Linked DNA regions of Homo sapiens: all the other regions are linked to region 2. The links come from fine-mapping of genetic effects on gene expression. A gene starts in region 2. Each other region holds a variant in brackets. All regions are shown on one strand. Distances are from middle to middle.

What was found.
Region 1: its variant is fine-mapped to the expression of LINC00640 in whole blood (TOPMed, PIP 0.98).
Region 3: its variant is fine-mapped to the expression of LINC00640 in unexposed skin (GTEx, PIP 0.94).

Annotation. Positions count from the first base shown.
Region 1 is chr14:51,242,513-51,245,186 of GRCh38, forward strand. It overlaps TMX1 (thioredoxin related transmembrane protein 1), which reads left to right. Exons shown (of 8, transcript NM_030755.5): 2 at 1,344-1,459. LOC124900346 (small nucleolar RNA SNORA70) reads left to right here and starts at 1,578; the gene lies at 1,578-1,712. The variant A/T (reference allele first, on the strand shown) is at 1,321.
Region 2 is chr14:51,331,818-51,334,491 of GRCh38, forward strand. It overlaps LINC00640 (long intergenic non-protein coding RNA 640), which reads left to right and starts at 1,576. Exons shown (of 5, transcript NR_038358.1): 1 at 1,576-1,747. LOC124900595 (a long non-coding RNA gene) reads right to left here. Exons shown (of 3, transcript XR_943854.3): 3 at 1,582-1,653.
Region 3 is chr14:51,362,746-51,365,419 of GRCh38, forward strand. LINC00640 (long intergenic non-protein coding RNA 640) reads left to right here. Exons shown (of 5, transcript NR_038358.1): 5 at 2,618-2,674. Among named protein-coding and RNA genes, the nearest start is that of LINC00640, 31 kb to the left of the region's middle. The variant G/C (reference allele first, on the strand shown) is at 963.

The DNA.
Region 1 (2,674 bases), 89 kb before region 2:
CTATAGAGTAGTAGTTTTTCTTTTTCCTTAAGTAGAGATTCTAAAGTAAGTTTTTAGAAAGCAACTGACAGCCTGGGCAACATGGCAAAAACCAGTCTCTACAAAAAAATACGAAAAATTAGCTGGGCGTGTGGGCAGGCATCTGTAGTCCCAGCTACTTGGGCTGAGGTGGGAGGATGTCTTGAGCCCGGGAGGTTGAGGTTGCAGTGAGCCCAGATGGCGCCACTGCCCTCCAGCCTGGGTAACAAAGCGAGACCCTGTTTCAAAAAATAAAAAAGCAACTGAGCAACAAAACGAACCTGAAAAAGAAGGACTCTAGTAGTTTTAGTAATAGTCTGCTCCTAATTACAAGTGAATTATCTACAGTAAATCCATTTCTGCTCAGAAGTTTTGTCATGGAGATATTTTCATTGTAATACGATTTATTGTTAGGAGCTTGGCTTTTATACTACCAGTTTGTCTTGTTCTACAATGTCTATTTTAGGAGTTTGGTTTTCATAAAACAAGTGAAGAAAATGTGAAGTACAGAAAGTATAGTTTTGTGTTTAACTGCTTTAGGCTTTATTCTTCCTGGTTCTGTTAAAAAAAAAAAAAAAAAAAGAACAACCCTGTGGTGTATTATAAGATAAAATACAATAAAGTGGAAAAATAAGATCCTCAGGAGATAATACCAGAGGAGTAATTTAAATGCTAATATGCTTGCATTTGTAAATCCAAGGTCTTGGAAACAGGATGACCTAACTGGCCAAGAGTTTTGTTTGGCCTGCTTAGTATTTGTGTGTGGGTTATTTTTTGAGGTAACATTCTCATATAAAAATGCAGCTCTCCATCTTCTTTTAAATATGAATAGCCAGCCTTAGTGTGCCAGCATCCTTAGTGGCAATCCTACTTAATAATGGTTGCCACTTTAAGATGGAATATGTGCTTTCTTATTCACCACAGCCCAGGACACTTCTGTTTTTCCAACACCTTGCATTTGTGACTCTGCATTATAAATTATTAAAATTGGTAAGCTCTAACTTTGGTCTTGAGCTTTCTGGTGGCCACACCGTTAATAGAGAAATGCAAAAGTTTTCTAAAGAGCTGTTTTGCATGTGAAAAAATCCTGTGTCTTATTCTCAGAATTTTATTTGATTAGCATCATCAGTTCATCATTCTTGATTTCCGGATTGTTAGATCTACCCTTAAAAGTTTTTCATCTGCATAAAATTAACCACCTTATCATCTTCAGTGTTTTCATATGAAATATTCTTCATAAATTATACATTTAAATTTTTTATCCCAAGATAAATGGTCATACTAAAGTGCTTAACTTTTTTT[A/T]AAAAAAAATCTGTATTTCTTAGTTATGCCCCGTGGTGCCCTGCTTGTCAAAATCTTCAACCGGAATGGGAAAGTTTTGCTGAATGGGGAGAAGATCTTGAGGTTAATATTGCGAAAGTAGATGTCACAGAGCAGCCAGGTACTGTAAGTCTTTGGTTAGTTTTGTTTCTTTGCTGTTTGGGTTGATATATTTATCCTTTTTTCTACATTGCATAGTCTTAATTCTACCTTTCTTTAGGTTTTGAAAACCTAACAGTCTGCAGCTAGTTAACCTGACTTGTCCACCTCCCTGCTGGGGGCTCAGTGTGCAATGGTTGCAAAATGGAGATTCCCTGGTTGTGTATACACCTCATTTCTTGAATGTGTTGCTTTAAGGGTTCTTGAAGACATTACCCTCTTTTTATTCTTGCCCACATAACTGCCTCTGATTTGTTGTTCTTTGCATCCCAGGCCCCAGACTAGTATGTAAGATGCCTTTGAGAAGTCCTAGGACACTGTGGTTCAGGTGAACATTGGCCAAGCCACATTTGCATCCATACCAGGCTTCAGAATAAGGAGCATGTGGTTGAGTGTTTTTCTGGAGTCAAGGTCACGTTCCCTGACAAAAGAAGACCTGAATCTCTGAAATTGAGTTTTAAATTTAGTACCTATGATTTGAGGATGTGGGCTTCTAAATATAAAGCCCTCGTGGTTGTGAGGTCAAGTGCACTCCTGACTTGGTCCCTGGACAAGTGGCAGGTCCTGCCCTTAAGGAGGTTCCTTCCACAGACCAATCTCATCTTACCGTTCTCGGTAGTCACACTACCCTTGGATTCTTGGCTGTCCCATCCCAAATGGTAATAATAGGTAATATTTATCGAGCGCTTGCCTATTATAGCACTCTTCCAAATATCTTGTGTTTATTATTTAATCCTTATACAACCCCGTGAAATATGTAATGTCCCCATTTCACAGATAAGAAAACTGAGGCACAGGTCAATTCTCTGTAATATCAGTGCTTGACACATGGCTAACAATAAATGTTAGCTGCTATTATTTTTGCCTGTCTCATGAAAGATTCATAGTATTTTCCATTTTTAGCAGCACCATAAACTGCCTTTGTTTGTTGAATGTCAAGTACAATTCCATTGGATTTTAGATCTAAGACCCTATTACCTTGTGCTCTCCCATGAGCACAAGGTGCTCTTATTACTAGTAGTCTTAATTTTGACAGTGATATAAATGTTGAAGTGTTTTTATTTAAAAATGTATTCAGTACTCTAGTTCTACATACTTTTTAACTGAGATAATGTGCAGTATTGTGTTTTTTAAAGTTGCTTTAAGTACATAATTCATTTTTAAATTATGTATTACG
Region 2 (2,674 bases):
ATATGCAAAGAAGACACACTGACCTTCCTTGTGGGGTTGAATCACCGCATCACTCCTCTGTACTCTCCCAGATCTCTGCTTCCTCTCTCTTCCTCTCTCCCTTTCTTACATTGTTATTTTTCTTTCATGTGGCCTCTCTCTCTCTTTCTCTCTCTCCCCCGCCAATCAAGGAGATGGAATGTTCATTAGGGACATGGACTGCATGTCCTCCCCTCCCTTTATCCCCTAGTCTTAGTACAGCAATTGGTCACATGATTAAGTGCTAGATACAACTTTGCTAAAATGAGTGCTCAACAACATCCTTCGTCATCCATTTGACCTTCTTAGCAAATGTCAATTAAAAAATGAAATACCGAAGTGAGTCAGAAGGAGAGAGGGCTGGTTGAGATGAGACAGCTTTGTATAGTGGGTGCTGGAGTTTGACCCAATGGGTTTAAGTTCTGGCTAAATGATGACCTTGGGCAAGTTACCATTCTGTGCTCAGTTTCCTCTGTAAGATGGGGATGACAATAGACCCTCTTTAGAGGGTTGCTATGAGAAAAAAATGAGATAATAAAAAATATACTTAGGAGAATGAGTACTTAATTAACATGACCTATTATTGTTCCCCCAGAAGATTAGTTCTGCCAGGTAAGAACTCGACTGTACACTCATGAAATTTGAGGCAAGTCTTATTCTTTCATGAGATGAAAACTGAGCAAGAGCAGAGAAATCCTTTTATGTCTTTCTCCTCACTTTGTTCAACGTGGGGAACAAGATATGTAGGACTATAGGATGTTTCCTGTAGACAACCTGAGCATTACTGAGGGAGAGAGGGAGTGTGTGAATCTTGTGCCCTGGCCTGACCACACGGCTGCCTATTTCACCATGTCAGGGGGCTGCCAGCCTCTGAGGCATTGTCCCTTTTGACATCTTCAGAAGCCACCCATCATGAAGACTAAATTCTACATCTGTCTTCTCTAGAAAACAGAGTAAAAAATCAACATATATTAGGCACTTATTGCATACCTATTATGACATAGACAATCTCATTTAATTCTCACAATAATCTCCTAAATTAGTTGCTACCATTATCTCAACCTCACAGAGGAGGAGACTGAAGAACAAAGCAGTCAAGTACACTGCCCAGGGTGTACTGGTTAGAAGTGGTAGAGGCAGAATTCGCATCCACCCCTGGCCCTGCTGCCTCCTCTGCTCATGATATCTGTGCCCCAGGGTTCCAGATGGGACCATGCATCCACGACACCCACAAGGCTGTCCATTCCTACATGGTGCTCTTCTGTTCTGACCTCCTAGTGAATGGTGATAAAGGTTAATGACTATTTGGACTTTAATGTGTGTGCCTATTGTTTCAAAGGGAGAATCATGATTTAAAAGAGGCTTAGGAAGACTTCATGAATTTAGTTGTCAGAAATATGACTCTCCCAAGGCTTGGGGTGAGTTGAAAGAGACCTCAACACAAGCCCATTAGCTTGATGCAATGTCCTGCTTAGGGCTTGCAAGAGTCCAGTGTAAAGGCAAATGAAAGACCCAGGTGCAAAAATGGGTGGGCATGTGTTTCCTTTCTTCCATCAGATGGGGCGTCCTTACTCCCAGTCTTTCCAGATGTTCTTCCCACTCCTCAACTGCTCCTGGCTCAGAAACCCTGCACACCTGGAAGAAAGTGAGAACCAGTTTTTCAACAAACACATTGCACAGACTTATTGTGAACCCCGGGTGGAATCAAGCATCGGAGGAAGAGAACGTGGTAAGTTTTATCACTCTACAGAGCACTTGAACTCTGCCTTCTTAGAAGAAATACCAGTGTTCTGGGGTATCTCTTGTGCCCAGGAAGCTCATGGGAGCATTCATTGCCTCAGTTAGGGGAAATCTCCAGAGAATATTTCTCTCATTTGAAGTAGAGATTCTAACTCATGCTTAGAGGATCATTTATACAAGATTCTTTTGGGAGCCTGGTTGTTTAACATCTGCTTTAGGGCAGGAGTATTTTTCTAAAAAAATACTTTATTTCTTTCTTATTAACAGTTGTCTACCCTACAAAGTTCCCGTGTGCAAACAGGATGGGTCTTAATTAGGCTGCAGAAGTTGTTGTGGAAATCCATTTGGCCTCAGGCCTCTGTATATGGCATGCTAAGACACAGAGAAGAATTACTCAGCCTGGGTGCCAGCTGAGATGCTCTACCCAGCTCTGCCCTGCCTTTTTGGAAGCTTTCTCTGTTTCCTTACTTTTGACATGTGGGGTTGTGAATTTGAGAGCTTCCTGAGATGTCAGCCATGAGAAGCCATATCTGTGTAATGCTACCTATGTAGTCTTCCAGACTTGAAAATAATCAGACGTATAAGTATTTGAAAGGCCAAACAAGGAAAACTATGAGCCAAAGAAAGACTGAAACAAGATGTGACAAGTCTCATGTAAATTGTTCATAATTCTGTTCTGATTCATAGTGGAGTTAAAATAACCTGTAAGCCCAACACTGCAGCTGGTTAACAGAGCACTGGTGTGTTTGTTTCCTCCAGTGAGGGCAGGCCAAGTGGAGGCCTGTGGGTGGGAGATCCCTGCAGATAAAAATGACTCTTCAAGGCCAAGTGGCCTGTTGGCTGAGGGTCTCAAAGATTTGGTAATCAGAGTTGGAGTATAACCAAAGAAGAGGCTGAGGAAAATCTGGATAGACCT
Region 3 (2,674 bases), 31 kb after region 2:
TGTAGAGTGGTTTAATTTTCTTGCGTAATGAAAATTTATTGAGTACTTTCTGAGTACATAGCATTGGGCTAAGGACTATTGACGTATGATTTAATTCATTCATTTATTCAACATGTGTTTATTGAGCGCTGCTGTAGGTATTAGAATATCGTAGTGAAAAAAAAAACAGATAAAAATCCCTATGCTATTGGAGCTTACATTCTAAGGGGAAGAGACAGGCCATAAAAAAGTAAACATAGTAAGAAGTAAATCATAAAGTGTTAGAATGTGATAAAATGTTACTTAAAACTATTTTAAGTAAGATGGTTAAGGAGACTCATCGAGAGATGCCTGAAGAAGGAGCAGGAGTTTTACTATGTGGATACTGGGAGCCTCACATACAGGCAGAAGGACTAGCCAGTGCAAAGGCCATGAAGTATACAAGATGTATCTGAGGAACAGCAATGAGGCCAGAGTGGTCTCAGCGAAGTGAAGTTGAGGACTAGGGAATGAGGTCAAAGAGAAAATGACCTTGTAGGTCATTTCGGGACTCTGGCTTTTACATTGAGTGTGATAGAAAGCTACTGGGGTGTCAGGGGCAGAGGAGGTATAGGATTCATATTATAACCAGATCACTCCAGCTGCAGCATTGAGAATAGATCATAGGAAGGCAAGGGTGCAAGGGAGAAGGATGCAAGAGAAGAGGCTCTAGTGGGAATCCAGGGAGAGCCCCAGTGGCTTAAACGAAGATGGTGGCAGTGGACATGGAGACATGTGAATATATTTTGGAGAAAAATTCAGCAGGATTTCCTGATGTGTTGACATGCGGTATAAGAGAAAGTGTGGAATTAGTGACTCTAAGGCTTTTGTTGTTATTGTTGGGTTTGGTTTGGGGTTTTTGTTTGCTTTTTCATTTTTTCCTGGGCAACTGAAAGGATAGAGTTATTTTCCAGATGGGAAGATTGTGGGTGGAAACTGTTTGG[G/C]GAAGAATATTAAAGTTTGCTTTCGGTGACTTGAGTTTGATCCCCAAGCGAAGACATCCAGGAGGCGTTGGACCTGAGCATTTGGAGTTGGGAGAGGTATCTGGGCTGGGGGGGCATACGAGGGACCATTGGGGTACAGATGGTGTTAAAAGCCAGAGACTACATGAAATGGGTGAAGGCGGGGTGCAGATGGAGAAGTGAAAAAGTGCAAGGACCAAGCTCTACGGCACCCCCAGAGGTCTGGGGGACAAGGAGGGATCAGCAAAGTAGAGTGATGAGGAACTACAGGTGAGGTGAAAGGAAACTCAGGGCAATGTGGTGTCCTGGCAGCAAGTGTGGTGAGGATGGTGAGGAAGAGAGCAAGGAGGCCAGTACCAAATGCTGCTAGGGGTCGAGTTAAAGGAGGACTGAGAAGTGACCATTGGATTTAGTAATGGGGAGGCCATTTGTTACCCTGACAAGAGTAGAGGTGTTAAAGCCCACTTGGATGGGTTAACAGAGAAGGGAAGGGAGGAACTGGAGACAGAAGAGAGGAACAGGCAGTAGTTCATAGGGAACTGGGTCAAGAGGGTTTTTTTTTTGTTTTTCATTTTTTAAGTGAGAGTGATAATAGCATTTTTGTGTGAAGATGAGAATAATACAATGAGAAGAGGAATTGTTGATGCCAGAGAGAAAGGAGAGCTGCTGGAGCAATGCCCTAGAGTAGGTGGGATGAGATGGGATCTATATGCAGGTGGGAGGTTGGCATTAGATGGGTGCACAGACAGGCCAGCTATTGTGTCAGGTGGGAGGCGGCACATGTGGGTGATGATGCTGGCAGGTATGAGTCTAATGATTTTCCTGATGGCTTCAATTTTCCCTGTGAAATAGGAAACTAAGAACTGGAGAGAAGATATCAGAGGCTTAAGGAGAGTGGATAAGGTATTATGTGGATGTCTAGGAGAGTGGGAGAGTCCATAGACCAGGGAAATGAACACAGTTGCCTGGCTGCACCAAGCACTCATGATGTTCACTATCACAAACATAAAGTGGGACTGGTGCATGTAGTTATGAGTTTTTCGCTAGCCACGTTTGGCTGTTCGGGTGCAGACACAGTTTGCTAGATTTAAACAGGGTTGAGGTGTTGCCAAGTGGGAAAGCTACAGAGAGACAAAGAAATAGAGATTAGATGCAAGGGGGCCATCATGATAATTGCCCAGGTAATGAAAGGAAGCTGAAAAGGGAAGATAGTGAGGGTCAGCAAAAGGTGGTGGGATCAGTGGATGGGTGCTGCCAGTGGGTTGAAGGTGGTGGGAGCAGTGATGGGGCTCCCAGTGGGTTGAAGGTGGTGAGAGAAGAGGATGGTCGTTCCCAGTGGGTTGAAGGCTTGTTGGAGTTGGGACACTGGGTGGTATGAACTGGAGAGTCAGGAGGTAAGTGATCAGATGCTGGGATGGATGAAAATGAGAATATGGATGGCAAGGTGGTTGTTCACCCCCAAACATGGCTGGAATACATTTTTTTGTTCCTTTTTGCAGTTAGATATGGCCAATGCTTAGTTCTGGCAAAGGAAATGTGGATGGAGATGATGTGCCCAGTTTCTAGGCCTGGCCCATAAAAAAATCATCTCATGCAATTCTATACCCTTTTTCTTTTCTGTCTGCCACTGAATGCAGAGAATCCAGCCAGGACTGTGAAGCCCCAGGGAATGGCTGCACTTCAAGTCAGAAGGA